Linked DNA regions of Homo sapiens: regions 1 and 3 are each linked to region 2. Evidence: fine-mapped expression QTL. A gene starts in region 2. Each other region holds a variant in brackets. All regions are shown on one strand. Distances are from middle to middle.

Region 1 (10,412 bases), 580 kb before region 2:
AATAACATCTAGGCCTAGAGACAACTCATTCCACTTCCAAATTTTTCCAGTTGAAATTATACACAGATTATTTCATGGTCTTTTTTTATTCCCTTCAGTCATCATAAGGTTTTCACAGTCTCCTCAAAGAGACACTGATAATCAGTGATTGTCCATCAGGTTAATATTCTGGGGCAGGTATCGTGTACACTGATCTGGTTTAATTCATCTATTTAGAGTGCTAAAATGTACACCACTTTTTTCACCCATTTTTCCCCCCACTGCCATGAAGAGAAGGCATACAGGCCGTGAGACTTCAAAACTTTGTCATTTATCAATTAGGAATTAGTTCAGGTGATCTCATTTACCCAAGCAATACAATCTTTGCAAACTTTTCCCCTAGAGGGAAAAGGATCATGCAGCTCTGTTTTATGTTGTTTCCCTGAAGACCACTTAGTCTCATTGACAGAAAGGGAACATTTGTTTTTAGGGAATTATATTCCCCTTAATCTCTTTTTTCACCTAGCAGTGGAATGCTCTAATACTTCTAAGTTTACTCTTGGGGACCCAGTAGATGCCTTTGGGTCCTTCACAAGCCTATCTCCTGTAGGCTTTGGGCTGTAGGGGTGGGTGAAGAGAATGTCCAGATCTCTGTGATACCAACATGCTGCCCATAGTGTGGAGGAAGTACTTGTAATAAACTGGAGTAGGTTCTTATTCATGCAGCTCCTCCTTGTGTGTCCGGAATTTATTCCTTCCGGTGGGGTTTTGGTCTCGCTGACTTCAAGAATGAAGCTGCGGACCCTTGTGGTGAGTGTTACAGCTCTTAAAGATGGTGTGTCCGGAGTTTGTTCCTTCAGATGTTCAGATGTGTCCAGAGTTTCTTCCTTCTGGTGGGTTTGTGGTCTTGCTGACTTCAGGAATGAAGCCGCAAACCCTTGCGGTGAGTGTTACAGCTCATAAAGGTAGTGTAGACCCAAAGAGTGAGCAGCAGCAATATTTATTGTGAAGAGTGAAAGAACAAAGCTTCCACAGCGTGGAAGGGGACCTGAGCAGGTTGCTGCTGCTGGCCGGGGTGGCCAGCTTTTATTCCCTTATTTGGCCCTGCCCACATCCTGCTGATTGGTCCATTTTACAGAGCACTGATTGGTCCATTTACAATCCTTTAGCTAGACACAGAGCACTGATTGGTGCATTTACAATCCTCTAGCTAGACAGAAAAATTCTCCAAGTCCCCACTTGACCCAGGAAGTCCAGCTGGCTTCACCTCTCACTTGGTCCTATCTTTCCATTTCAAGCACACAGCCACTGACATCCACATCCACTTCTTCCCTTCCTTCTGGAAATTCAAGCCTTTGGAACCCTACCCACAGCTCCAAAGTGCATAAGGATGCTGCTTGTGATGGCTCATGCCTGTAATCCTAGCACCTTGGGAGGTTGAGGCAGGAGGATTGCTTAAGGCCGGGAGTTTGAGACCAGCCTGAGCAACAAAATAAGTTAAAAAAAAATTAGTGGCCAGGCACAGTGGCTCATGTCTGTAATTCCAGCACTTTGGGAGGCCGAGGTGGGTGAGGCAGGTGGATCACGAGGTCAGGAGATGGAGACCATTCTGGCTAACACGGTGAAACACCAACTCTACTAAAAAAATACAAAAAAAATTACTGGGGCGTGGTGGTGGGCACCTGTACTCCCAGCTACTCGGGAGGCTGAGACAAGAGAATGGCGTGAACCCGGGAGGCGGAGCTTGCCGTGAGCCGAGATCATGCCACTGCACTCCAGCCTGGGTGACAGAATGAGACTCTGTCTCAAAAAAAAAAACAAAACAAACAAAACAAAACAAAACAAAAAATTAGCTGGGCATGGTGGCACACACCTGTAGTCCCAGCTAATTGGGAGGCTGAGGCAGGAGGATTGCTTAAGCCCAGGAGATTGAGGCTGCAGTGAGCTGTGATTGTGCTGCTGCATTCCAGGCTGGGCAACAGAGCAAGACCCTGTCCTCCCACAAAAAATGCAGGTTGGGGTAACCTTTATGCTAAAACCACAAACCCTAATCCATCAGATTCTTGCAAAGGGAGGTAGGTCAGGTATGGGTCATGGGGAGACTGAGAAGAAATCATTGCTTGGGATCCACTCTCCTGCACTGCTTGAACACCAAATCTCTCCATGTTCTTTTTCAACTCTACTCTGATATCCTTAAATCTCTGCATGCCTAAGGACTGCTATTGTGATACGACCAGTTCATATCCTGGCCCACATTGCCATGTCTGACTCACTGTAATGCTAGTTTATATTGGGAATAGTAAAGATGGGTTTTCATCCTGATCATTTTCTGTTTGCATACAGCCTTGTTCTCTGCACCATCCATGAAAGCACAGTTTTGTTTAGCTGTTTTATGGGCACCCTCTTTCGCATTTTTTTTCTTGGCTAACTGACCCTTGAAGCTGGCAGAAGGCCACTTAACCAGACTTCTCAGAAGCCCTAGGGTGAAGTAAGGCCTTTGCCTTTCTAGCAGTTAAGTGACTGTCCCAATTGGTCTGGGTGACTCCCCCCTGATTTGGACTGGCATTTCATGCTGCTTGTCTCTAGTCTTGGCAGCTGGAGGGAATTAGGAGCCTGTCCTGGGACTGGCAGCTGGGGCTTTGATTGAAGTGTTCTGTTCCAGGCAGCCTCAATGATTGCTTGTTCACAGAGACTCTAATCCATGCTTTCTTCTTGACCATCTTCCACCATAGGATTTCCAGTTTTAAAAAGTAAGCTTTTAAAAAATTTGTTCACTGATAATTTAGCAATTTTACATGTGTAGCTCTACAGTTTATAGGACTTCCACATACCTCCTGAAGAGTTCTTGAACATTTTACCACTCTTATTGAAGTACAATATCCCTTAGGATATATATGACCTCAAATGTCAAGCCTCTAAAGTTCTCCATCAACCCCCTTCAATTTCCTAAATGAGATAAAGCTCGTAAAGTGCTCCACACAATGCCTGCAACCTAGTAAGCAACCAGTAAATGTAAGCTATTGTTAGGATTGTGTTTGGGGCTATTACTACTTCACTTCTGGTACATGCAGTTTTCGCAGTGTCACAGGTTTTCCCTAGCCAGAGTTTAAATGTCTCTCCTCCCAGGGCTGCTGTGGTGATACTCTTGAGAAACACACCTGGCTTTTGCCCCTCACCTCCATGGTTTCCACCATGTCTGTTCCAGAACTTGAGCTCATATGCATATGACACATGGCCTGCTTAGGTTTAAATCCACTGGGTGAACTATTACTTAAGGATTTGCGTCATGTCTGACATTCCTTGTCTATCTTGATCTAGGAATAGCTTCAGTCTGTACAGAAATTCAGTATTCAGGCTGGGCATGGTGGCTCATGCCTGCAATCCCAGCATTTGGGAGGCTGAGGCGGGTGGATCACCTGAGGTCAGGAGTTCAAGACCAGCCTGGCCAACATGGCCAAACCCCCATCTCTATTAAAAACACAAAAATTAGTCAGGCATGGTGGCATGCTCCTGTAGTCCCAGCTACTCAGGAGGCTGAGGCAGGAGAATCGTTTGAACCTGGGAGGCAGAGGTTGCAGTGAGCCAAGATCGTGCCATTGCGCTCCAGCCAGGGTGACAGAGCAAGACTCCATCTCAGAAGAAAAAAAAAAAAAAGACAGGGCTGAAAGATTAGTTTCCAGATACTTTCCCAACATCCCTCCAGGGGTGCAAAGTATTAAGCTCTAGTAAGGCTACATTTGCTTCCTCCCCCTTCCTAAAAAACTTGCCAAGCATTTTATCCCTTTCCAGGGTCTTTCAAGGAACCTGTCAGGTATTTTTCATTTCAGGCTCTTCACTATTCACTGGCAGTCACAAACAAGCTCAGATTCCACACCCATTTCCATGCATTAGGCTTCCTGCAGTATCAACATTTCCAAATACTAGTTGACCATAATTCTTAGAGGGAATAATTTGTCCTTGCAACAGAGGTGTACAGCATTAGGATTCAGGAAAATCCTGGATGAACCCTAAAATGTAACAATATTCAGACTTCTCTTGCCTGGGAGGCCTCATAGGCATTTATACCGAAATTGCAACATCTCTGAGCGCAGTCTTCCTGCCCTCACCCTGTCCCCTTGCTGATTTGCCCTAAGTCCAAACTTTTCTGGGTTCCACTGTTTAACTGTTTCCATGAAGTAATGTGAGTGTTTGTGCACATCCACTCCAGCTCGCTAATGAGGCTGGCACTGAGAAACTGCCCAGCTTGATAAGGTGTGCTTGGGAATTTCTCTCCCTTGTCTTCTTATTCAAGTTTTTAGGTGTGAAGATCCACCTGGTTTCCACTGTCTTCTCCATGTCTCATGTCTCATTCTCAGGGTTCTGTGACAGCTCATTAATCTTTTTTTTTTTTTTTTTTTCGGAGACTGAGTCTTGCTCTATTGCCCAGTGGTGCAATCTTGGCTCACTGCAACATCTGCCTCCTGGGTTCAAGTGATTCTCATGCCTCATCCTCCCGGGTAGCTGGGATTATAGGCACCCACCACCACACCTGGCTAATTTTTGTATTTTTAGTAGAAACAGGGTTTCACCTTATTGGCCAGGCTGGTCTCAAACTCCTGACCACAACTGATCTGCCCACTTTGGCCTCCCAAAGTGCTGGGATTACAGGCATGAGCCACTGCAGCAGGCTTAATCTTTTTTGAAATGCAAAGATTACCAGAGTCATATTCCTTTAAGGATGTCCCACACCAGAGCCACCTGGGCCTCAAAGTGTTAGAGCTCTTTGATTATGCTCCCCTCTTTCAACTATCCCTCTTTCTCACTCTGACACACACCCCACGAACACTGAGATTCTATCACAGGCAAAGGTGACTAGACTGGGTTGGGTCAATGACAAACACTGAGATTCCCTTACAAAGCAAAGATGACTAGGCTGGGGTTGGTCAATGGACTTCCTAAACTCCGGTCTTCCTATTGCAAAGCTTCAGCATAATGCAGAAAGTCTCATTAGAAAATAATTTAAATACTAGTG[G/C]AACTATGGAGAATAGAAGCACAGCTATACAAAATAAAATATCTATTGCTCATCCCAAATAAGCTCACGTTTGTTATGCCTAAGCAAGAGCTTAAGAGAGGATATGCACTTGGCAAATATAAATGTAACACAAATACACGGCAAGTCCCCTGTAGCCCTCTAACCCAGTCCCCAATGTTTACTATACTGAGATGTTCCATAATTTTGCTGAGAAAAGTCACATAAACTCAGTTATAGTTTCCTGTCAGGTAAGTATCCTTCAAAAATAGTAAAGCACCACTTCACACAGAAAACCTAGTTTTCCGCCAAGAATCAAATAGATTTCACCTGCCCTTTCATTCTTGCTTTTCTTCCCTCTCCTATGACCGAAACCCAGCTTCAAGAAGGAATGACAGGGAGCTCTGGGGATCTGGTCACTCAGATTCATCACATCAGCCCTGACTATCAAACAGTCCAAATGCTTTACTTCCACATTCATTCTTTCAATTTTTGAAGCCTCAAGCAGTGAATCACATTATTTTCTTCCATCAAGTCCCCAGGTAGTAATTTGTGAATTCTGTTGTAATTTGAGACTTGCAGGAAACATACAGTCCAGGATAGATACTGATCCCCAATTCTGTTTCTGATTGGCTGGTGACTATCACTTTGTCATGTGAGACATGGCCAGGCCATACAGTGCTGCATTACTAGCAGGGATTTGGCTTCAAATAGCCCAGCAGTCCTTTGGTGAGATCTACCTAAGGTCTAGAAACCAAAGAAAATATTTCTCCTTTCCTTGAAGGTAAGAAAGGATAGAAGAAAAAAAAGTGAAAGAAAATATTTCTCCTCATTTTCTTTTTGCCTTTGCCTATTTTTTTTTTTTTTTTTTTTTTTTGAGATGGCGTTTCGCTCTTGCTTTCTAGGCTGGAGTGCAATGGCACGATCCTGGCTCACTGCAACCTCCGCCTCCTGGGTTCTAGAGATTCTCCTGCCTCAGCCTCCCGAGTAGCTGGGATTACAGTCGTGCGCCACCACGCCCGGCTAATTTTTTGTATTTTTAGTAGAGACAGGGTTTCTCCATGTTGGTCAGGCTGGTCTCGAACTCCCAACCTCAGGTTATCGGCCAGCCTCGGCCTCCCAAAGTGCTGGGATTACAGGCATGAGCCACCACGCCCAGCTAACCTTTGCCTATTTTTTTTTTAAAGAGACTAAAGTTTGCTATACAAAATTCAAATTTTTATATAATCAAATTTACTAATCTTATCTTTCGTAACTTCTGGGCTTGGGGTTATATACATACATATATATATTTATATACATACATATATATATTTTTATATATATATATATATATATATTTTTTTTTTTTTTTGAGACAGAGTCTCACTCAGCCGCCCAGGCTGGAGTGTAGCAGCACAATCTTGGCTCACTGCAACAACTGTCTCCCGGGTTCAAGTGATTCTCCCGTCTCAGCCTTCCGAGTATATGGGATTACAGGCACCTGCCATCATGTGCAGCTAATTTTTGTATTTCAGTAGAGACTGGGTTTCACCATGTTGGCCAGGCTGGTCTTGAACTTCAGACCTCAGGTGATCTGCCTGCCTTGACCTCCCAAAGTGCTAGGACTACAGCGTGAGCCACCATGCCCAGCCAGGGTTAAATTTTGTAAAGTCTTGCCCATTCTATAATTATAAAAATATGCATCCATGTGTTCTTCTAGGATGTCTGTGATTTCATGTTTTACATGTAAATCTTTGATCCATCTGGAATTTATTTTGGTATAAGAGATGATATAAGGATCCAGTTTTACTTGTCTTTTTTTTTTTTAACCCCAAAATGGCAAATCAGTAAATCCCATCACCATTTATTGAATTAATCTACCTTTTATAGAAGTCCTTTAAATAGAATCTTCTCCATGTACATTTAAAATGACTCAATTGATATAAGTTCTATGTATGGCTTATAAAATTCCTGTTCAAAACATAATACCAGGAAATAGCCATGATTGTGGACAGTTATTTAACCCCTCTGGATCTGTTTCTCTACCTGTAGAAATGGAGACAGCAATATCTACCTTGCATTGTTTTTATGAAGATTTTAAAAAAATAAAATATGTGGATGCATCTACCTCAAAAAAAATGTGAGTTTCTCTTTCTTTTCAACTTTCTGTAATAAAGCAACATGGGCCCTCAGTTAGAATTGAAGATCAAACTTGGCAATAAGACTTGGTTTCTATATTTATTTCCTGAGCATATGGAGAGAGCAAAGGGGGTCATGGCTTTTTCAGTAGTGACACATAATTGTTTTCCTCTCAGTTCAGCATCTAGAGGAGTATCCTATTTAATCCTCTTGAAGCACCAAACTTATTCCCAGTTCCACAAATATTTCAACAAGCTATGGTGCTAGGGACAAGTGATATCACATAGATCTGAGTTTGAATTCCAGTTATGCTACTTACCAAATATGTTACTCAACTCCTGAGTAATTTACAATAGCCCCTATGTCACAGGGTTCTTGAAAGGGTTAATTAAGACTCCTCGTAAAACATAAGCGTCATAAGGACAAGAACTTTGTCTGGTTCATCACAGTGTCCTAAGTGCTAGAACAGTGCCTGGTATACATTGCGGCTCATTAAATCAATATGGAAGGGAAGGGAAGAGGAGGAGAGGGGTAAGAGCACTTAGCTAGGTGCCAAAGTGAGTGTACTAAAACTGCTAGCTGCAGGCAGTGGTCAGAGGTAACAAAGATGCAGTCCTGGCTTCAGGGGCTAAAATCTGGATCTGAAAACCAAGGTTATAGCACTTCCATACTAAGCATAATGAAACACATAATACAATACAGCACAAACATAGTGCTTTGAAAACAGGTGGTAAGTAATAATTCCAGCTGGAGGATTAGGGAAACACTTTATGGAAGAGGGCTGTGTTTAAGCTGGACCTTAAAAGATAATACAATTTTTGATAGAGGGGAAAGGGGCAGCTTTCCATGCAAGGCAAAAAAGTACAAAATTGGGAAAATATTTGGCATGTTCCAGGACCGGAGCTTAATACAAGTGATGAAAGTGCAAGTCAGGCAGAAGAAAGAACATCTAGAAGGTCAACCCCAGTGACCTTGAATGTTCAGCTATGGTGTTTAAGACAACACACAGACTTGAAGGTTTTTGAGTTGCAGAATCACAGGCACAGGCCCATATGACTATATTATATTTATTTACTTATTATTTCTATTTATTATTCAGAAATCAGTGTGAAAGGTAGATTAGATGGGATCTGGTCACTCAGATTCTTCAAATCAGCCCTGACTGTCAAACAGGCCAAATGCTTTATTTTCTCATGGATTCTTTCAATTTTTGAAAGATTTTCAATATTACATTGGAAACAAATATAATATAATCATAATAGCTCATGAGAAAAGTCCAAACTCAGGAGTTGCAGAGAATAGGGAAAGAAGGAAGAGATTTAACAGTGAGAGGGGAGGACAGGGTCAGAGTAGTTGAAAGATCACTGGGCAGTTAGGCTGCTGATGATGTTGTTTTCTGAGGTCAGGAATTCATGAAGACAAATGGGATCAGTTTAGTTTGGGAAATGTTGACCTTAAGGATGTCTTTTGAACACTCAGTTGGAAATAGGCTATTGATGCCCAAGATGTTAGAGCAGGAGAAATGGAGATGTGTCAGCATTGCTCCATCATTAACAAGATCAATGTTGCTTTTCTAAGATGTTTACAGTCAACCTAATATGTGCATATCAGAATGGAAGCATCTCAGATCAATGAAGATAGGTGAATTGTTTAATAAACAGTGTTGGGAAAATTGGCTGGCTATTTGGTCAAAAAAATGTGGCACCCATCTCATACTGCACATAAAAATAAATCCCAGATGAATTAAATGTGGAATTGAAAACACAACAAAGAAAAGTATTTAGGTAAGGAATATACACACAGATAGACACACACAGACACACACGTATTGACAAAGATATACATAAACACATTTACATCTGAATTTATTTCCATATTTACATATATTTACTGAAATCCATGAGTTCACACTGGTATCTCCAATATCAATTCAACACCACAGTGTTCATTCTAGTTTTCTCCCTTTCCTTATTTCTAACTCTCTTCTACAACGAGAACCTTAGTTCCCATTATTTTTAATTTTTTTATTAGATCAAATCCCCTGTATATAGCCAATATCTTATCATCATTGCTGCCCCTGTCCCTGAGTAGAGCCCCCATCCCATCTGGGCTCTGACATCCCACACCAGGCCACCCATCTGAATGGATGTCTACCTTTCTCTGCTCCATACAATGGATTTAGGATGGAATTGCTCAGAAAGGAGAAGGGAAGAGAAAGAAGAAGGGAAGGGAAAGGAAAAGGAAGGGAAGGGAAAGGGAAGACACTTCCATTTTTTGTTTATTGATTTATTTGTTACAGAAAATAAATACCCCAAATTGCCAAAATCTACCATTTTATTTATATATATATATATATTTGATTCCATTTCATTCAAGTACCATAAAAAGTGTACTTTTTATGTTTAATCCATTCTGGGAAAAATGAAGAGGTATTTCCCAGAGCATCACTTCCACCCAGGAATTTATAATCTCATTGAAGAAGTTAAACAATGCATATTAATAACACAAACCAAAAATAAGCAGTTCAATAGAATAGTGGCATGAGCTAGCACTAGTTCCCTGGTTCTCATAGAACCAGGTAGATGAATACACATTTTCTGCAAGCCTGACTTATCTGGGGTTTGGCTCTGACAGAATAATCCTAGCCTGCTAGGGAAGGTTGAAGACTCACCCTTAATAAAATGCAAGCGGCCTAGAGCAAGGGTTCTTTCCAAATTATTGTAACCACTTCTTCTTGCCAATGGTTTTTTTGTTTGTTTGTTTTTGACATGGTCTTGCTCTGTTGCCCAGGTTGAAGTGCAGTGGCATGATCCCGGCTCACTGCAGCCTTGACTTCCTTGACCTCCTAGACTCAAGAAATCCTCCCACCTCAGCCTCCCAAGCAGCTGGGACCACAGCCAGGCACAACTATGCCCAGCTAATTTTTAAATGTTTGGAAAGACGGAGGTCTCACTTTGTTGCTCAGGCTGGTCTTGAACTCCTGAGCTCAAGCGATCCTCCTGCCTCAGCCTCCCAAAGTGTTGAAATTGTAGGCATGAGCCATTGCACCCAGCCCTTCCTTCCAATTGAATAAAAATTGCTACCATCCCATATAACACAGAGCAGAAAACCATCTGCAAATCTTAACGGATCATTGTCCCATTCCCAAGCAGGGCGGGGTCTGTGATTCCAAGCCCTCCACTGCTCACACGCCAAATGAGAACATGGGAAAATGAACATGGGAACTGACAGTCTCCCCGCGAACGTGGGAACTGACAGTCTCCCCGTTCACTTTGTTACATAAGTGATACAAACTCTTTTTAGA
Region 2 (10,412 bases):
CAACTCCAATCATTGTACAAGCTGATAAAATATTTTTAAAAGTTTAAAGCAGATTAAAAATTACCCACAACGCCACCACTCAAAGTCAATAATGAATAATATTTTCATGTATATCTTTAGCAGATATTTTCTATTTATATGTATATATATAAATAATATAATATTTCAGCTGGGAGAGGTGGCTCATGCCTGTAATCCAGCACTTTGGGAGGCTAAGGTGGGCGGATCTCTTGAGGCCAGGAGTTCAAGAGTAGCCTGGCCAACATGGTGAAATACATCTCTACTAAAAATATGAAGATTAGCCAGGTGTGTTGGCATGCGCCTCTAATCCAAACTACTCAGGAGGCTGAGGCATGAGAATTGCTTGAACCCAAGAGGCAGAGGCTGCAGTGAGCCAATATTTCACCACTGCACTCCAGGCTGGACGACAGAGTGAGACCCTGTCTCTTTCTGTCTGCCTCTCTCTCTCTCTCTCTCTCTCTATATATATATATGTAATATTTTAAAAATTAAAACTAATTTATGTGATCTTACAGTCTGCCTTTTCCCCTTTATTGTGAAATTATATTATGAAGTTCTTTTCTTAATGAACATCAATAAATGCATATATGCATCTTTTTAAAGGATGCATTCTTAATTTAACTGATTAATAAGTTTCTAACTGCTGACTGTTCTAGTATTTCGCTAACATGAATAATGCAGTGATGGGCACCCTTGTGGAGTAGTACCTCCGTATACATTCACTAAGATAGCGTCTTAGAACTGATCCAACCTAAGGCCTTCCATGGATGAGAACTCCTTAATTCTGAGTTGCTGGGATTAACCCCTTCCCTACTAGCATCTGCTTCTAAGGGGCCCTCCATTGCCTCTTCAGCCTGCAGCAGCAACTCCCTCATGAAGGAAATGCAGGCACAACTACTGGAGTTTGAGAAGTTTGGAGGCCGGGTGCGTGGTTCACACCTGTAATCCCAGCACTTTGGGAGGCCGATGCAGGCGGATCCCCTGAGGTCAGGAGTTTGAGACCAGCCTGACCAACATGGCGAAACCCCGTCTCTACTAAAAATACAAAAATTAGCCGGACGTGGTGGTACATGCCTGTAATCCCAGCTACTTGGGAGGCTGAGGCAGGAGAATCGCTTGAACCTGGGAGGCAGAGGCTGCAGTGAGCTGAGATCATGCCAGTGCACTCCAGCCTGGGCAACAGAGCAAGATGCCATCTCAATTAAAAAAAAAAAAAAAAAAAGAGAAGCTTGGAGAAACAAAGAGATGTGGGAGGGCATTAGCACTGAGAAAACAGGCATTGTGCCCCAGGCACTGCAGGACACTTGTACACACCTTGTCTCACTGAATATCCCTTGAAGTTGTCATTGGAAAAGCAGACTCACAGCAGATAGGGAATTTGCCCAAGGCCATGGTCACCTTAAGTCTGGTAATAGTGACCAACTACAAGTTGAATCAAGATGTTGTATGACATTGACGTGCACACACATAAAGCAAGTCACTGTCTTTCGGCTAAAGGGTGAAGGGTTTCTTTTTGGGGCAATGAAAATGTTGATTGTGGTGATGGTTACAAAACTCTGAATATACTGAAGGCCATTTTAGTATATGGACAAATTGAATGGTAGATGAATTATCTCAATGAAGCTGCTTGGAAAAAAAAAGAAAAGGTCGTCATTCTTGCCAAAAAGACCTCTGAGTTTGAATCCTGACTTTGCTCCTGTCAAGCAATGAGACCTTGGACAAGCTGCTTCTGACTAGGTCTCTGTTTTCTTATATATAACAAGGAGATAATAACAACTAGGTCTCAGTATTGTTGGGCGCTTTAAATAAGATCATGTAAGCAAGCACTTGACCCCTAACTGGTAGCCATTATTTCCGCCGCAATGCTAAATGCGACCCAAATGTGAAAACACCAGCATGGTCCCCCGCGTAGGGCTCACACTCAAAACAGGACACTCGAGTTTTGTGCTGTTTGGAGTCCTGAGATCTGTGGTTTCCAGAGCCCATAATCAGAGGCCCTTTTCAGCGCCATGCTCAACCCCACTACATTTCTACAAGGTGCTCTCCACTCAAGGTTGCAGGACTAGGGTGTGGAAAGTTGTCACTTCAGGGGAGCTGACAGTGTCTGGGATTGCTGGAGTGGGCAATCTGACACTATCTGGGATTGCTGGTAGGCCCAGGTGCTGAAGATGGGGCTGGAGACAGAGAGGAAGAAGGTGGGGTCCCTGCTTCTGGTGATATTTTCTGTGTGAAGCACAGAAATGCTTATTTGCTCACTGAATGGCTGGCCTGTGCTCATGCTGGGGTTCCTGTCTGCCTCCCCAAGTCAAGCGCAGCTTCTTCTTTTCCCTTCTTGTCACTACTTCCCCAGCATCCCCCCGGGCTTTCAACTTCAATGGCATTTCGATTCCACTTTCTCTACCTTCTCTCCCTTGCCTAAGCCACCTTTCTCTATGCCTGACCCTTATTATCCTCATTCTTCCTATTTTAGAGGCACCCTTTGGTCTAGGCCAGTGGCGATTGACTTTGGCAGCTCATTAGAATCCCCCAGGGAGCTTTAGAACCTAATGATACCCAGGCCGCATGCAAAAAAAATCTGATTTAATTGGTCCTCACTCCACTTGGATTACAGCAGCAGCTTTCTAACTAGTCTCCCTAACCCCATCCTCAATATCCACTCCTGTCCTCCCAGTACAGGCAGAGATATACAAAGCCACACCTTGTGCATCTTCTACACATATCAGCAAAAATCACCTGCCACCTTGTATCACTCTGACAAGCAGATCCAAAATAAGGGCTGTTCATCCTTAAATATGTTGTTTCCAGCCCTTTTCTGCCATATAACTCCTCCTTCAGGGCAGCCTGGCTTGAAATGGGCTCTGTCGATGAAAGGCCCGCTGCTCTCCAGTCAGCCTCTTCTTCTCGCCCCACTCTTAGCTCGCCGATTCATCAGCAACCTGGAACAGTTGCCTTTTCCCTCGGCCTACCTGTGTCCCCCTCCCGATTAATGCCACCTTAATCCAGGTTCTTCACCCAACCCCACATTCCTGTAACCACCTGAAGACAGAGTTGTAGGCAGGTAGACTTGAGGGTCTATCAGATGTGTGGATCCCATTCCCGCATTGGACCACAGTCTCCACTGGGGCAGGAGACATGCATCTGGTTTCCTGTATAGCCCCCCTGGAGGCAGAGGTCAGCGCTGGGGAATATTAGAAATGCTATTTTCCAACTTGCCAAATAGCACCCACACTGAAATAAAGCAATTAAGGGAATGAACACTTACCTTGAATCTTCAAATCAAATATTTTTTCCAACACATTTTTTCCTTTTGTATCATATATTGATACCTTGTAGATATCCTGATCATCGGTCTTCAGATGCTTAATTTTCAGAGTTCCATTTTTAAATAGCTTATATGTATCTTTTTCCTTGAAAGTCTCTTTCTCTTTTCTGAATTGTGCAATCTTTTTCTTGTCTGAAGTTTTTTCCCATTTTATATCGTCAATATCATCACTCATTTGAAAACTAGGAATGTCCAAGTTGATGTCCTGACCCAAGGCACCCCAGGTTTCCAAGGCATTCGTAATCTCTTTGGAGACTGCACCTATAAAAAGCAAAAGAGTTACTGAGAGTCACTTTCAGGGAAAGCTGGGTTGGGACTTCTTTGACTCTTATGCTTACCTTTGGAAGAAACATTGAAAATCAGAAGGAAGCTGGCTACAAATTTACATGGAAAGCTCATCTTAGGGGTTGGTTTCCTCTTTTGATTCTGAGCTCTTCATGCAAAAGGAACTGAAGTGAGACTGGTGGAGTCCACACCCCGAGAGCTTAACCACGTGCCTCTCTTTACATCTTTTACAGTAACATAAAACATAATACACATACACAGAGAGCAAGAGCGCGCACAAGCCAGCCCTTCTGATGTGCTCCTTTGCCAAAGCAGATGTGTTTATGAGTGTGTGTTTTCTTGCTGCATTTTAATTCTCACACAAAAAAATTGGGAAGGATAGGTTTTCTCATCTCAGTGAAAGAGAAAAGGAACAGAGAGGCTAAGTAGATCACTAAGGATCACTCTTTTGTAAACAAGAAGCCAAATTCAACCACACAGCCTTTTATCCACTTAGGTATACTGTCCCTAACAAGACCACATAGAAATATAGGTAAATGTTCACAAGCCAATAGCAGAATGCAAACATTTATCCCATATGATTATATTGAAAAATGTAGACCCATAAAATGATGAGGAAATTGATTTTTTTGTTTCTCCAAAGATATTTTTCATGTTCTAAAATCGTTTTTGTGGTGAAAAGAAAGAAATTGAATATCAGCTGTAAATGCTTGCAATCCCCAAATCCTATGTTCGGCATACATTTTACAACTCTAGTGAAATTCACAGTTAGATAAATAAAAACTTATTCCAAAACAAAGAAGCATAGAGACTATGAAATATAATTAAACTACCAAAACAAAGGAGTCAAAAGCATTTAAAGTGATTAACATTATAGGTGGTTAAGAAAAAGGAGAGATTAGGAGAAAAAATAAATGAGAGGGAACAGGGAGAGAAAAAAAGAACAGAAATTTGTGACACAAGGAAACAGACAGTGATGCAGAGACGGGTGTGCCCTGAAAAGATGCCTAAAAAGAGAAATAACCATGACAGACTTCCAAAGCACATTTTCAGGGTTATAATTCTTTAGGTCACAGTGAGTAAAAATTGCAAAAGTGGTGCTCGTTTTCTTTTTCAACTTTAAGTACAAATATGGATATTATCTGTCAGAAAGTTGCCAAGGAAATGAAATTAAGTCAAAGCAGTTGTTTGCTGTTACTGGGTAAAAGAAAGCCAAATATTTACCTCATGGTTGTATGAGCGTCATCCACAATAATGAACTACAGTTGGATTAAAGTTTTAAATGCAAAAATACTATAATAATGCTAAAAGGAGGCCGGGGGTGGTGGATCACAGCTATAATCCCAGCACTCTGGGAGGTCGAGGCGGACCTCCTCACCTGAGGTCAGGAGTTCAAGACCAGCCTGGCCAACATGGTGAAACCCATCTCTACTAAAAATACAAAAATTAGCCAGGTGTGGTGATGTGCGCCTGTAATCCCAGCTACTCAGGAGGCTGAGGCAGGCAAATTGCTTGAATCTGGGAAGCGGAGGTTGCAGTGAGCCAGGATTGTGCCACTGCACTCCAGCCTGGGGAGCAGAGTGAGACTCTGTCTCAAAATAAATAACTAAATAAATAAAATAATAACAATAATGCTAAAAGGACAATATAGAAAGATATTCCTATAGTTTGAGTATGGAAGGCCTGGCTACATATAACATATAATCCAAAGTAAGAAAGAAAAGATGAACACAACTGATGATATAAAGAAGTAAGATTTACATGCAGATGAAGAAATAAGGAACAAAATGAAAAGGCGTGACAAAATATTTGCAATATATATAAAATTATTAATATTCAAAATATTCTTACCAATAATTCTTACCAATCAATACAAAGTAGTTTTTAAAATGGGCAAATGATATAAATGATCAGCTTGCAGAAGAAATATTTCGCAGAAGAAATATCAAACCTACAAGAGGAGTCTAATGTGACCAAAAATATATGTATATATCTTAGCTATAAAATACCATTTTTCACCATCAGATTGGTAAAATTAGAAAAGATGATAATTTACATTATTAACATGAGTGTGTGGAGAAATGAACCCTCATACAACATCAGAGGGAATGTAAATCAATACCTTCTGGGGAAAGGAATTTATCATTTCCACCAAACTTTAAAATTTATGTCTTTTTCTCACCTAGTGATTTTAATTTGAGAAATCTATCCCACAGAAATGATTGCACAGATGTTTTAAAATTCTGTTCAAGGACGTTTGTTGTAGCATTTTTGTAATAAAAAATTGCAAACAACTAAAATTATGGTATATCCATATTATGAAATATTGTATAACCATCAAAATAGTATAACATAGGCCTAAAAGTAAGACATGGAAAGATGCTTTTGGTAAATCACATGAAAAGAGCACATTGCAAAACAATATCTATAGGATTAGTCCTTTTTATATATGATACTATGTTTATACTATGCTATGGGTATACCAGTATACCATAGCATACTATGTTGTTATTAAGGTATGTGTTGGAAAAAAGCCTGAAAGGGTTGATGCTGAATTTTTTTACAGTGCTTGTCTTTCAGGTATTAGATTGTGAGAGAACTGAAATGAAATTTTCACTTCTTACCTTTGTAAACCAAAAAGAATTTGAGACAGATCTCAATCAATTTAGAAGTTTATTTCATCAACATTAGGGACAAAAAGGAACACAGAACCACAGGAAAAATCTGTGGTTTGTGCCTTTTTCTCAAGATTATTTCAAAACCTTCAGTTAAGGGGAAAAGCTGGCCAGAGGGGAAGGAGGGAGGGTACAGTCACATTACTGAATCCATATGTTGCAAGAGAAAAAAAGTAGGTAGGGGAATGGTCAATTTGTATTCTTCTCATGCTCAGTAAATTGGCACTTTCTTAAGATAAGGTGAACATAGAGTAGCTACCCGTGGAGACAGCAGCTTTTTATCTGTAACTCTCTGCTTAGGAACTCAAGGAAAGGCAGTTTCTTGTGTGACTCAACTTTCAGCTTAATTTTTCCTTTTGGCATAATGAATTGGGGTCCCAGGATTTTATGTTTCTTTCACATTTTATTTATTTCTGTGAAGTTTAAAATTTTGGAAATAAGCACCTTTTTTGTTAATAAAAAATGTCTTTTTAAGAAAGGATGCTTAGGGCACACGTATTTTTTCAAAAGTATCGCCAACCCAGAGGAGCAGCATGGAGCTTCCTGTTTGTGAGTGGCTGACCCACCAGCTGCCATCCAACTCCAGTGTGTCAAGGCCTGGTGGAGAGAAGGTGGCGCCAGCCATCCTCTGACCCATCTCAGCTTTGGAGGGCGCTTGTCCTCTCTTCCTCACACTTTCCTCATGGAGCATGTGAAGAGCAGCTTTCTGTTCCTCTATTTGAAACATTAATTTTGCTCCTCTAAAACTAATTCAATTCTGAGTGATGAGCATGGCTTCAAGGGCAGAAACAATGAAAAAGAAAGAGGTCAGTAGATTTGACTCTGTAAAATGTGAAAACTTTCTATGTAAAAAGCCATAAAAAAATTAAAGACAACGTACTAAAAGGAGCAAATTACTTGCAAGATACATGACAAAGGCATAACAATTTTTTTTTAATTTTAGAGACAGGGTCTTGCTCTGTTGCTCAAGATGGAGTGCAGTGGTATGACCACAGCACCACAGCATACTGCAGCCTTGACCTCCTGAGCTCAAGTGATCCTCCTGCTTCAGCCTCCTGAGTAGCTGGGACTACAGACATGTGGCACCATGCCTGGCTAATTTTTTTATTTTTTGTAGAGACGGGGGGTCTCACTATGTTGCCCAGGCTCATCTTGAACTCCTGGGCTCAAGTGATCCTCCCACCTTGGCCTCCCAAAGTGTTGGGATGACAGGTGTGGGCCACCGTGCCTGGCCAACATTAAATTTTTAGTATTAAATTTTTCTTGTAAACATAGAAAAGATAGACACCTTAAAACTAAAATGGGTCAAAGTCATAAAAGGAGCAATCCACAAAAGAAAAATTTTATTTCTATTTATTAATAAAGAAATGTCAGTTTTAACATAGATGCATTTTTCATCTTCATTTGAAAAATGAAAACATAGTGTTGATGATGGTGTAAATGGGCATTCTTGTATATGGCCAGGAGAATTGCAAGTAGGTATAGTTTCTGGTGGGCAATTTGTCAGTGTGAATTAGAGTATCAAACATTTGTGGATTTCTAACAAATCCACAAGGATGATTTTATCATAAGGAAATAATGAAGGCTATGTACTAGACTTGGCTATAAATTTATATGCTGCAGTATTTTAAAGACAAAATTGGAAACAATTTAAATGTCTAAGAGAAGGAAATTGGTTAAGTAAATCATGATATAGACAAGCTGTGGAATATGACAAAAACAGGTCCCAATTGTAGGAGAGGTGAAAAGTAATCTTTTTCCTCTTCTTGTCTTAGGTTCTCTGGCTGGAGCCCTGTAAACCAGACTGGGAAAAGACAGGTTAAGAAGGGAAAGGCACATTGAAGTTGATTAAGATGTGTATCCCTCATAAACATGGGAGCACCCAGTGGTGAGTAACCCAAAGGGATGTTAGAACTTGGACTTATAGAGTATATTAGACTAAACAAAGAAAAAGCGATTTGGGGCTTCTAGGTTGGGGAGGCAAGTTACCCAATGACCAGGAAAAGTGTGCCAAACAACAAGATGTGTTTAGTAAGGTTTGTTATGCAGATTGAAGCCAATGCCTTCTCCATTGATAAGAGTTGTTAAGAGTCCTCCTCTTCCTGATACAGGAGAGGGAGATACCTTTTACAAACGGCTATTTTCTTCAGAAATTGTAAATTTTCTTTACAAAAGAAAAATATTGTGCCATGTTTTTAAAGCTTTTACTGCCTCTGCTGGTTCATGATGGCCTTTTGCTCAAAAAAAAACCATATGTTAAAAAGGCATGTTTTAGGGTGGCACTGAAGTAGGAGGTGGAACTTGACTCTGGAGGTGGGGCTTGGACACTGGACCAAATTGAGGACTAGCTAAAACAGAGATAGGTGGAAGCAGCTTTCCATAAAACATGCTCACCAGTGTGCCATGTCAGTTTACTGTTGCCATGGCAATAACCAACTTCTACCACCTTTTTCCATGGCAATGACCTGGCGACCCAGAAGTTACCACCCTTTTCCTAGAAATTTCTGCATAATCTGCCCTTTAATTTGCATATAATTAAAATGGGTATAAATAGGACTGCAGAACTGCCTTTAAGCTGATACTCTGGGCACACTGCCTGTGGTGTATACTTGCTCTGCAAGGAGCAGTACCTCTGCTGCTGCTTCAATAAAAGTTGCTGTCAAACACCACCAGCTCGCCCTTGATTCTTTCCTGAGTGAAGCCAAGAATACTCCAGGCTAAGCCCCAATGGGGCTTACCTGTCCTACATCAGCATCTTCTGGTACCCTTCACAGTCAACAATATAGTCCCATTTTATTTCTCAAAAAGCGTGTGTTGGGTGCATCTCTTGCAGAATGTCCCCAGGGTGTTGGTCCCTGTGTGGTGGGATAATAGCTACTATTCTGCCCTCCTTGCTTGCTGTTGCTATTCTAATATATCTAAATTGAACACGTATTGTCCTTCAATTGAATTATGTTTAATTCTAAGTGGACCTGTCACTTCGGTAAATGTTCTGAGTGCTGAGGCAGGTGCAGTCCCTGCCTCTGAGTGTTTGCATTTCAGGGGACCATCTACTCGGTTGCTCATTCCAGCTCCTCCCTTGCCACTCTTGCTGCACTGTACAGGTTAGCTCTTGCTCTGTCTTCATTGATTCTTTTTCTTACCTAAACTCACACTCCTGGGGAAGTAGGCTACAGGGAAGAGAATAAGAAGCAGAGAAGGAAGAAAATATTCTTGGAGGTCTTACTTTAGGTTGACCTCTTATTCCCTGATTAGTAAAATATTGATGGTCTTGACTTCTACCTCCCTTTCCCTTTGTCAAAGGAGAGCCTTAACAAGGCTCAGGTCAAGTCAGGACTGTTAGAAATAAGTGCTCAGTGCCACAAGGAAAAACCAGCACTTAGACAGAAAATTTCTCAGCAAGGCACATTTACTTCTGCAGATGGGTGCTGCCTGTGTCCCTCTGATTGTACGAGCACACTAAGCGGGGTAGCACAGGGGTTTTTATCCCTAATGCAGTTCCTGTTTCTGTGTCCTTTCCCCACTGGCTGGAGTCAGACCGCACAGTCTAAGCTGACTCAATTGGCTAGTGTTTGAAATTGAATAAGGCCAATTAGGCAGGAAGGGAGAGGCTGTCCATTACCAACTAGGTGAAAAGAGTTGTTTAAAGAGTAAGAGGTTTGCCAGTTACAGATTAAGCAGAGAAACAAGTGCTCGTTACAGATTAAGCAGAGTACGAAGTGCTCATTACAGATTAAGAAAGACCAAGGAAGCTTAGAAGAGGAACTTATTATTTTTGGCAAATTTCCCCCTCTTGACTTTATAGTTCTCCCTCTTCACATTTCCTTAACATATCCTGACTTTGTTGCTCCTCTTAGTCATTTAGGAGTAGGAACTTATCTGAGTAGGGTGGGGGAGAATCGAGGGGTTTTCATGAGGGCTTTTTCTATAAGCCTTTGCACTAATCAACAAATACAAGGTATGATGCAGCAACCTACAAGAGTGAGTACACCTATAACAATTGCAAGAGGGGTAAAGATTGAGGTTATGAGTCTCTTCCATTTTCCAAACCATTTTCCCATGAGACCAGAGAAGGGGTCATCTATTCCAGAATTTAGCTAATTCATTTG
Region 3 (10,412 bases), 60 kb before region 2:
TGAGTTTCTGCTCTCCCAGCAGGGGGCAGCAAGTGACGAGGACAGCCATTTAACTCAGGGGAATCACAGTCACTTGGGAAGAGAAACCCTAGGTAAACAGCAAATTTCTTATTAATTTGTGATGTAGTGATTCAGAGTGATTTCAATATTAAAGTAAATGTGACTGTATTTTGCAGTCACATGCTGGCAGGGCCAGAGCCTGTGGGTAATAATAAACATATTATTGTCAATCAATGTTAACAAAAGACTTGGGCAAATCACAGCAGAATGAATGCAGATTGCAAAATAAACACATGAAAGTATTTCAGCCTCACCAGTACAAAAAATGTAAATTTAAACAAGGTAGCATTTTTAATCTGCCAAACTATCAAAACATTTTTAAAAATAATAACTTCTGACTAGTTTCGAAAAAATTTTATGCTTTGGATCCTGTTTGTACATCATCTTATTTAGTCCTAATAGTAGTAAGGACCAATCTCATTTTATGACTGAAGAAACAATCTCCAAGAACTTGAATGATATAAAGATGTCAATTTGAGGCCGGGCACGGTGGCTCACGCCTGTAATCCCAGCACTTTGGGAGGCCGAGGCGGATCCGCCTGAGGTTGGGAGTTTGAGACCAGCCTGGCCAGCATGGTGAAACCCCGTCTCTACTAAAGAAAAAAAAAAAAAAAGAAATTAGCCGGGCGTGGTGGCGGGCGCCTGTAATCCCAGCTACTCGGGAAGCTGAGGCGGGAGAATCGCTTGAACCTGGGAGGAGGAGGTTGCAGTGAGCTGAGATCTCGCCATTGCACTCCAGCCTGGGCAACAGGGCGAGACTCCGTCTCAAAAAAAAGATGTCAATTTGAATATACATGTTAACCTCTTCTTTATCCTGAGAAGCTACTGAAATGATAAATAATTATTTGTTGTTGAAGGCTGTCTTGTGTATCGCAGGACGCTTAGCAGCATCACTGGGCTTTACCCACTAGACACCAGTAGCAACCCCAACTCAGTTGTGGTAACCGAAAATTATCTGCAGTATGCCAGATGTTCCCTGGGGGACAAATTCACCATGAGTTGAGAATCACTGGGATATGGGCTATCTGAGAGTGAGAAATTTCAACAGAATTCTTGCAAACTGGTGTTTGAAAGAGTAGGCTGGAAGAAACCACAGCTTGATGTGCCCACAGAGCCACCGTAGGGTGCAGACAGGATGACAGCTGGCTGGCCCGCAGCACCTCAAGGCTCAGAAACTTCCGGCACCAAAAGGCAGAGTCAGAGAATTAAAAATTAGATTAATTAGAATTCTGTTTAGATAATAATTTGATTCCTGGTCCATCTTAAAACATGAGTATGAAGAACTTTGGCAGGAAGATCTTTAGGAAAATGGGAGACTTAAAAGAATACTTGATGTAATGGTGCCAAATGTGAACTATAAGGAGAACAATGCAAGAAGAAAAGCACAATTAAAAATGCCAGCCTAAAGAAAAAGAGACAGAGAAGTCAATGCATAATATTAATATACAACGTGTTGAATAATATTTGTGCAGTTACAACAATTATTATTTTGTTAATTATAACATAACAAATATATTAATGGTAATTATAACAAGATATTATTGTTATATTACTTAATAATTGTAGATTTATTATTGCTTTGCTTAAACACAGCGATATAAGTTTATTGGGAGGATGTGAGAAGAAAAGAGTGAGGAAGTGTGGAGTTGATGTAAATTAGCTAAGTCCTAATCTTTTGCAGCAGTAAATGAATAGATAATGTCTAAAATTTTGAAATTATGAAATAAACATATTATTGTAAATACCTAAAATAATCTAAAAACATTAAGAGTAGTGGCATCTGGGCTGTGAACAGGAGGGCAGAGCACGGTAGGCCAGGGGACTGGTGTCTTTTATTATGTCTTTTGAGAATACTGATTTTTAAAATAATCTATGTTATTTTGATAAAAAATTTATAATATCTAGAGCTGTTGAAACTGTAATGAGAGGAACACTCTCATTTGTTGCTAGTAGAAAAGAGTGTCTTGAAAGAACTTTTCTGAAAAATAGTGTAACAGCTTCTATCAAGAGCCTTAAAATATTCATAGCCTCCAGGAATGCATCCTTAGGAAAAAACTAGAAATGTGGGCCAAAACTTATATAAAAAGCTGAATATCATGTTATTTGTAACAGCAAAAAGTTGGAAACAACTTAAATATCCAGCAGTTGGGGAGTGGCCAAATGAATGGGTAGCTATACACCTTTAAATATGTGTACGAAGAACTTTATGTGGAGACAGGCTTACAAAATGAGAAGTAGAAAAAAAGCAGGGTATACAACTGCTTCAAAGTCCTTAACTGTGTTAAAACACGGATGTGCAGAAATAGAACTAGAAGGGAATGTACTACCATGTTAACACTGGCTATCTCTGGGATTTGGGTAAATTTTATTTTCTTCTCATTTTTTTCTCAGTTTTCTAATTTTTCATCAGTCAGTATGTATTAATTTTATAAGCAGAAAGAACATTAATGTTACTATTTTAAAAGAAAAAGTAATAATCTTGAGTACAAAATATTTTGCCACAAAACAAAACCTGTCGCTGTGTGGCCAAGGCCTGGAGGGTGAGGGGGGAAGGTTGCTGTTACCTTTTTCAGGCCTTCCTGGAACCCATAAAGGTTGATTTCCCACTTTACAGTCAGCTAGAGACTAGGACTGGAACAAAAGACTAATGGAGGGTTTCACTTTGCATAATTAGTTTAGTTCATCAAGGCCTTGGAACATGCATTCATTTTCACCCCCAGTCTAATGGAGGCAGTGACGTTTGTTGTCATTTTCATGTGTCTGAATCTGTGGAGCTGGAATTCTGAGACTCTTTCCTTAAGTTTCAGGTAGCAAAACAACAGATGACTGATGATGCTTTCTTTTATAGTGGTTTTGGCCAATAAGCGAGACTTAACAAGATATGGATAAAAAACTACAAATAAGACATTATTATTTGAGAGTCATTTTTGGGGGTTCTTTTCCTAATAAAATGTACTTTTTCACCAAAATGCCAAATCAAAAGATTCTATCACTTATTAATAGTACAAAATGGAACAGTGGTTCTTAGACTTCAGAGTTGTTAATCATCTGAGAAATGTGTTTAAGATGCAGAGTACTTAGCCCAATCCCCAAAGACTCTGATGCATACAGTCTAGGGTAAGCTCATGTTTTTGCATTTTCAACAAATACCATAAGTTGATTTTGATGCTTGTGTTTCTTGGACCAATCTTTGATAGTTATAGAGTAAGATTTGAAGAAGTCTGTACCCATGGAAGTAAATTAAATACCTTCCAAACTAAAAATGATTTGTTATTAATCACGGCTTAATCGAACTAGTTTTCTTTAATTTATGAATAAATACTTAAACTTTCAGTAAAAGATTGGTAGGTTAAACATGGGGAATTTAAGGAATAGTTATCTTTATCCCATCTGGAACTCCAATAAAATGACAATTTTTGTAAAAGTCATAAATCCACAAGAACAAAGAAAACATGAGAAAAGATGACCCTAGAAAAAGGATGTCAACAAAAGCTTGGAAGTCTTAAAGCGGGTAGACAAATGCTGAATGATATAGCAGCATGGAGGAAACTCCATGTGCAATAGGGGAAGCTATAATGGGAAGCCAATTTGCTCAAGTGAGCCTCATAGAGACTCACAGATTAGAGGCACCAGAAACTTAGGGATAAGAGGTGGAGATAAAAAGAGGAGCATCGATTCACAGTCCGTGTAAGCAGCAAACAGACCCCAGGTCCCTTCCTTCACCCCACTAGGAAACAAAAACTTATGCTTAAGAAATTGACAAAGAGACTCCAAACTCAGAGATAACAGGCCAAGGAAGGGTGAATGTGCCAGTTATCTGTTTATACTGGAGCTGGATCCTGTGAGGATTTTTCCCTTGCTGATTGGTTCAATGTTGGGCTTTGTTAATAGAATGTGTTTGATATAGTACAAAGGTTTGAAAATGGGGACCGAGTGAAAAAGTTTATATTTAAAGGTGACATCCAGTCTCCTTCCTTTCTCAATTCGCAGAACATTCGCTTCCAGAATTATATCTCCCAGGCAGAAGGATTCCTCTATGGAGAAACCAAGAGAAAAGACCTGACACTTTGAGGCTCCCCAGCAAAATGGCCAGGCTCCTACCTTATAGCACTGCAGTGAAGCCCATTGGATAGCAAGCTCCACCTGTGCACACAATCAGCTCTTTAGTTCCTTGTTGATAAATGTAAATGGATAACTAAGAATCACAAGGGATCTGAGGAAAGTGTTCGCCATGAAAGACAATTTTAGTAACAAAATTTTAGTAACAGAGAAGTGGAGCAGGGTGAATACCCTGGGCTTAGTATCATGTGAGACGTCAGAAGATGTTACATCCGTAAGACGAAACCAGAAAAATATAAAATAAACATTCAAAAAATTAAAAAATACTATGGGAAATGTAAAAATATCATGAAATAAAAATTCAGCAGAATATTGGAAAATGTTGAAGAAATCTTCAGAAAGTAACCAAAAAGATCAAGATATGAAAAAAAGCAGAAAAAATGCAAAACTTAGAGAATCAATGCAAGAAGTAAAACATTATACTAGTAGGCATTTTAGAAAAAGTTAACAGATAAAATGGAATAATAAATTTTTCAAGAAAGTAATACAAGAAAATCTTGACCTGAAAGATCTGAGTCTCCCAATTGAAAAGGACTTTCTGAGTTCCCAGAACTATAACACCAAGGCACATCATTGTGAAATTTTATAGTTGGAAAAAGAGAAGATCCTAAAATCAGAAATCCTATAGGCTAACAAGCAGCAAGCTCAGAATCTAGAGTAAAGTGGAGGAATGTCTTCACAATTCTAAGGAGAAATGATTGGCAAACTGGAATCGTATACCCAGCCAAACTGTCAATCAAGTGTAAGGGTAGTAGCATAAACACATTCCTAGATATGCAAGTCTCAAACATTTCACTCCCTTATAACATTTCTAGGAGGCCATTAGAGGATGTGCTCCATCAAATGAAGAAATGGCAGAATATGAGAGCTACAGAACAAGGCATTCAACACAGAAGCAAAGCAGAGATATTCCCAGGATGACACATTTATAGCAGAAGAGTCAGAGAACTCTGAAAGGTGTATCTTAAAAAAAAGAAATGAATATGATAAATTACCTTTTGTGTTTGTGTCACTGAGAGAAATTTTAAAAGTTTGACAGAGTTTAGAGGAAGAGTTGGTGACAGAACAAATAAAAATATAAAAAAATTATCTTCTGGACATTTTAAAAAGTAACTTAAGAAAGGAAATTAATCACGGTAC[A/G]TTTTGTGGCTCAGCTGTGAAGAGTAGGTGGGCAAAATAATGTAAACACTGAATGTTTATTTAACCAAAAATCATGCCAAAAACCACTGTGTGAGAATGGAGGAAGAGAAAAGTTCACATGGGTGTGTTGGGGGACTGGTTGTAAGATAGTTAAATCCTCATTTTTTATAGGAGAAACATGATAAATAATGTCAAAAGTTTAAGTAAAAGCATATGTATCAATATAAATAATATAAATATCAGAAGAAAAGTCTAAAAGTCATGAACATGGTTCTTTCTAGGGAGTAAAATTGAAGGTATGGGGAAGAGATAAACAAGAGGCTATCCTTTTTTATTGTAAGCCTTTGAGTACTTGCTGAATTTTAATACCCTGCACAAGTATTATGTGAATCAACAATTAAATATGAAAGAAAATGTCAATGACTTGAAATTCATCACTATTACGTTTGCTATTTTTGAGGCAGTGTACTGGGGCCCCCAAGACTACCCCCAGGTTTGATGATTTGCTACGAAGACTCAGCATATAGTTGTACTCATGCTATCATTTATTACAGCAAAAGGATGAAAAGTAAAATCAGCAGAGGGAAAAGGAGCAAAGTTCAGAGGAAAGCAGGCATGATCTTCTGAGAGTCTCCCAGTAGAGTCACACAAGGGACATCTAATTCCTCCAGCAGTGACTTGTAACAACACATGTGAAATGTTGTCTACTAGGGATGCTCATTAGAGACCCAGTGTTCAAGATTTTTACTGGAGGCTGGTCATGTAGACAGTCTATGCCTAACAAGTAGGAAAATTCCAGACTCCCAGAAGAAAATCAGATGTTCAGCATAGCAAACAGTTTAGGCACAGTGAGCCACTCTTGTCATTTAAGAAAAGTTTTATATCAGTCTAGGGAACTGTTTACAATTCAAATTCCCAGATGCCAACCAATGGCCAACCTTGCAAAGTAGGTCATTCCAAGGATGGCAGTCACGGGCCTTGCCCAGAGTATTAACATTCAGCAGGTACTCAGAGGCTTTCCACACAGGCATTGAAAGTCTTTGCAAATTTCCTTACAATGTATCAGAAAAGTGCTGAGTGACCTGGAAAGACCCTTGCCTGGACTTGCCATCAGTCATAAGATCTGAGTTCAAATCTCACAGGGGGTCCTTTACTCTTCATGTGACCCTGGCCAAGAAAAGGAGACTCTGAGACTTACTTTTCCTTAGGAGTAATGAAAAGTTTATTTTTATTTATTTATTTATTTATTTATTTACTTTTTCTGAGACGAAGTCTTGCTCTGTTGCCCAGACTGGAGTGCAGTGGCACGATCTCGGCTCACTGCAACCTCTGCCTCCTGGATTCAAACAATTCACCTGCCTCAGCCTCCCAAGTAACTGGGATTACGGGCCCACGCCACCAAGCGTGACTAATTTCTGTATTTTTTTTTTTTAGTAGAGATGGGGTTTCACCATGTTGGCCAGGCTGGTCTCGAACTCCTGACCTGGTGATCCTCCCACCTCAGCCTCCCAAAGTGCTGGGATTACAGGCATGAGCCACCACGCCCGGCAGAGTAGTGAAAAGCTTAAAGCATATTATATACCAAAGTGGGTGCTCAGGAAATGATTTTGTAGAAATCATTTAGTGATTTTTGCCTACTGAGTTTTCTCCCTTTTAGACTTCTGCCTTTACATCTCACTCAGCTTCCTGGGCACTGCTTTTGCATTAAAGTAAATTGTGTTCTACTCCAAGCAGTTTTTAAGCATTTCTTCACGTACTTTATCTTAGCCACATAGAAATTCCTGCTACTCTTCATGTGTGATTATCGGCAAGAGGCCATGCAGCTTCCCTGGCTCTGGGTAAAACCCTTTGATGGGTCCCTTACCAAGAGAAACCACATCAGTGTAATCAGCATTGAGTGGGTTCCCCAGTGGGTGACTCCCAGTGGCTTTACTCCATAGATATGCCTTTGGTTTGCTTTTGTTCACAGTGACACCGTCCAGGGCTGAAGGCTGAAGAATGATTCCCCTAGTTTCACCTTTCCTCACAATGCCTGCATTGCAGCCTCCATGAATAATTCTATACAAAATTAGGGAGGCTGTTTACTCAGTTATCATTGTTCACTCGTAACTCAAGACAAATCCTTGGCCCTGTGGCTTATGGCTCACGCTCCAACTAGTCCTAGAAGGCTGTTTACTATATCATAGAATTGTCCTGAATACAAAATTGTACTGAATAGAATAGAATTGAATTGAATTGTCCTGAATACAGAATTGTACTGAATACAACAGTGTCCTAGCTAAAGCAAATGTCATTTTATCATGCAGTTTTTGAACTCTGCAGATCTACAATTAATTACAATTATTTACACACAGAGAGAGTGCCCCCGCTACCATGATGATATCCTAGAATTCTAGAACCCCAAACACCTCATAACTAAAGTTTATTCCACTGGTTTTAACATTTTTTTCTTAGCAATAAATAAATTTTATCAACTCTAAAATCTTGGACAGATTCCCTAATATTTTACTGGTTTGTTATTTCAAGTGTATGCCATTTATTTATTTTGAAGTCTATCAGTTAAAAATGAGGCTGTTTTGATGAGCACAATAACTTTAAGTCAGAGGTTGTGGATAACAGTTTGAGTCTCATGTTAGCCAGTTGATTTCTGTGTTTGGTTTTGAAGGTATAACATTGAGAAAATCCTAATTATGATGAATAGAAGTTAACAAACACATGTTTTTAAAGGATAGCTTGCTTAAAAATCTAACAATTCTCTTATTAATTACTCTAGAGTCTCAAAAGGGGAATAGTAGAGTGTCTTCTGTTTCAAAGTCGAATCATTAGGAAACTCTAATAACTGCTGTCATTCCTTAATTGGTTAGCATTCTATGTGGAGAGTATGAATAAATTGATTTCTCAGATAATAAATCTCCACTATTTGGAAGAAAATACTTATCAGTTATCCAGTAAGTTTTTATATTAGGATATTTTGATCTATGACATTTTACAAAGTTTCATGTAACTTCTTGTTTCTGATAGAGGCATATTCAGTTTTAAAAACAGTAAATCTAACTTTGGTTTTCATTTCGATTTCACACGTTTCAGTTTTATCTCTGACACTAGCTGCTGTCGTTAGTCTGGTAACATCGTTGCTGTATGTTGCCACAATGATTTTATTGAATTTATTAAACTATTAGTAAAATATGCAAGTTTGCACAATCATAGTGCAGACATATTTAGCTAAAGGGATCTCTCTCTTTTTTTTTTTTTCGGAGACAGGGTCTTGCTCTGTCTCCTGGGTTTGAGTGCAGTGATGTGATCACGGCTCACTGTAGCTTCAACCTGCTGGGCTCAGGTCATCTTCCCACCGCATCCTCCCAAGTAGCTAGTACTGCAGGCACTCGCCACTGCGCCCGGGTAATTTTTTTATTTTTTGTAGAGACGTTGTCTCACTGTACTGCCCAGGCTGGTCTCAAACTCCTGGGCCCAAGCGATCCTCCTGCATTGGTCTCCCAAAGCGCTGAAATTACAGGCCTGAGCCTGCACTTCCAGCCTGAAGGGATGTGTTTATCAGCTTCCCCAAAGTGATTTCTTGTCTCATTTAAGTTATTGGTACGTACATCCTGTCTCAAATTTCGCTTTTGAAAACTAAGATTTGGAACTCAGTCCACAGCATTATAAAGAATTCTGAATAATCCACGGTTTACACCATGATCAGGGCAGACAATTTGTGTGGAATTACCCAATACTTGGAAGATTCTGGCATCTTCTTAGAAGTTCCTGCTTGTCCCTGCTGGGCACAGTGATTCACTGAACATGTTTTAGCATCAGCCGTTTGTATGTGCTGTGACTTGTATAGTTTTTTCTTTTACTTATTGTGCTCTCAGTACACATGGCACTGTTATTTTGCCAGTTTATTTGACGCAGTATTAAAATCGATCTCAACAATTAGAAACATCTTCTCCTGTTATGTAATGCATCTTTCTTGTTTGTACCTGCAAGATCCCGTTACATAAGAACAAGCAAAAAGGTGAGGCCTATGGCACGACTCCAAACTGTGACCATTTGCACTTAGAACTAGAAACAGATTGACAATACTCAAATATCACACTCCAGGATGTCTTTGAGTCTCAGGCTTATAATAATGGAGACATTGTCACTCTTGTAAGCATCTGAAAGGAGTGCTTGGTGGAGAAATTACTAAGAATGTTCTCGGAAATCTTGGGGTCTACTTCCTCCAAGAAGTCAGAAACAGGATGCAGTGGACTTTCAATGAGTCATTAATTTGACATTCATTGGCCCTTTTGTTGGCAGAATTTGGGGAAAAAAATGGGTTTATTTTCGTGGCGCCACTAGGACTAATTCTAGGGATGGCACAAAATGCGGGACAGCTGCTTAGGAGTGCGGGGCGGCGTAATCCTGCGCCCTCTGTTTACCAGTGTGAAAGGAGAAGGTGGTGCGCAACGGTGATGCCAATAGGCCCTCGAGGGATTTGAATTGACCCTCAGTCCTTGTGTCTGAAATCCATCATTCTACATAGACACAGGGACTTGAGCTGAATGAATAATTAGTATGGTTTAGGGAATTCAATGCAACAAGTATTTATTGAGTGCACTGTGAACACACAGTGTTCAGGACCAGGTGCTGGAAGAGGAGGGAAAGGAGGGGGGGAGAAAACATGCAACGTTTTGTGAAATGGTTCTCGTCCCCAGAAGCTTTCAGTAGTGGAAGAGAAACGAAATACACTTAGGAAATAGTGAGAAAATAGGACAATGTCTAAATTTTAAAACCACAGACTGAATATAGATCAGACTTGTGGCCTCAGCATGGGACATGGGTCGGATGGGTACTGGAGAGGCACAGAGACCATCAAAAGGCAGCTAGCTGGCCCAGGGAGAGATGATGAGGGTCTGCGTTAGGGCTGAGGCAGAGGAAAGGACAGAACAATGACGCTGATGCAGTGCCAGCAGGGGTAGTGACTGATATGTTAAAAGCAAACTCTTACTTTGACAGTATAGATTTCTCCAGATGTTTCTGAAAACATATTTTTGTAGGAGTGAAATGCTAAGGTCCTTTTCAGTTCTAAAACAACCTGTTTGTTCTAAGCCAAT

The links.
Region 1: its variant is fine-mapped to the expression of CD2 in whole blood (INTERVAL, PIP above 0.99).
Region 3: its variant is fine-mapped to the expression of CD2 in whole blood (TOPMed, PIP above 0.99).

Annotation. Positions count from the first base shown.
Region 1 is chr1:117,328,420-117,338,831 of GRCh38, reverse strand. No RefSeq gene overlaps it. Among named protein-coding and RNA genes, the nearest start is that of MAN1A2, 34 kb to the left of the region's middle. The variant G/C (reference allele first, on the strand shown) is at 4,991.
Region 2 is chr1:116,747,823-116,758,234 of GRCh38, reverse strand. CD2 (CD2 molecule) reads right to left here and starts at 3,805. Exons shown (of 5, transcript NM_001767.5): 1 at 3,682-3,805; 2 at 3,284-3,604. The coding sequence starts at 3,742. RefSeq lists promoters at 3,688-4,130, 3,688-6,285, cis regulatory regions at 5,189-5,218, 5,556-6,055 and a silencer at 5,052-5,555.
Region 3 is chr1:116,807,372-116,817,783 of GRCh38, reverse strand. No RefSeq gene overlaps it. Among named protein-coding and RNA genes, the nearest start is that of CD2, 58 kb to the right of the region's middle. RefSeq lists an enhancer at 1-137. The variant A/G (reference allele first, on the strand shown) is at 5,320.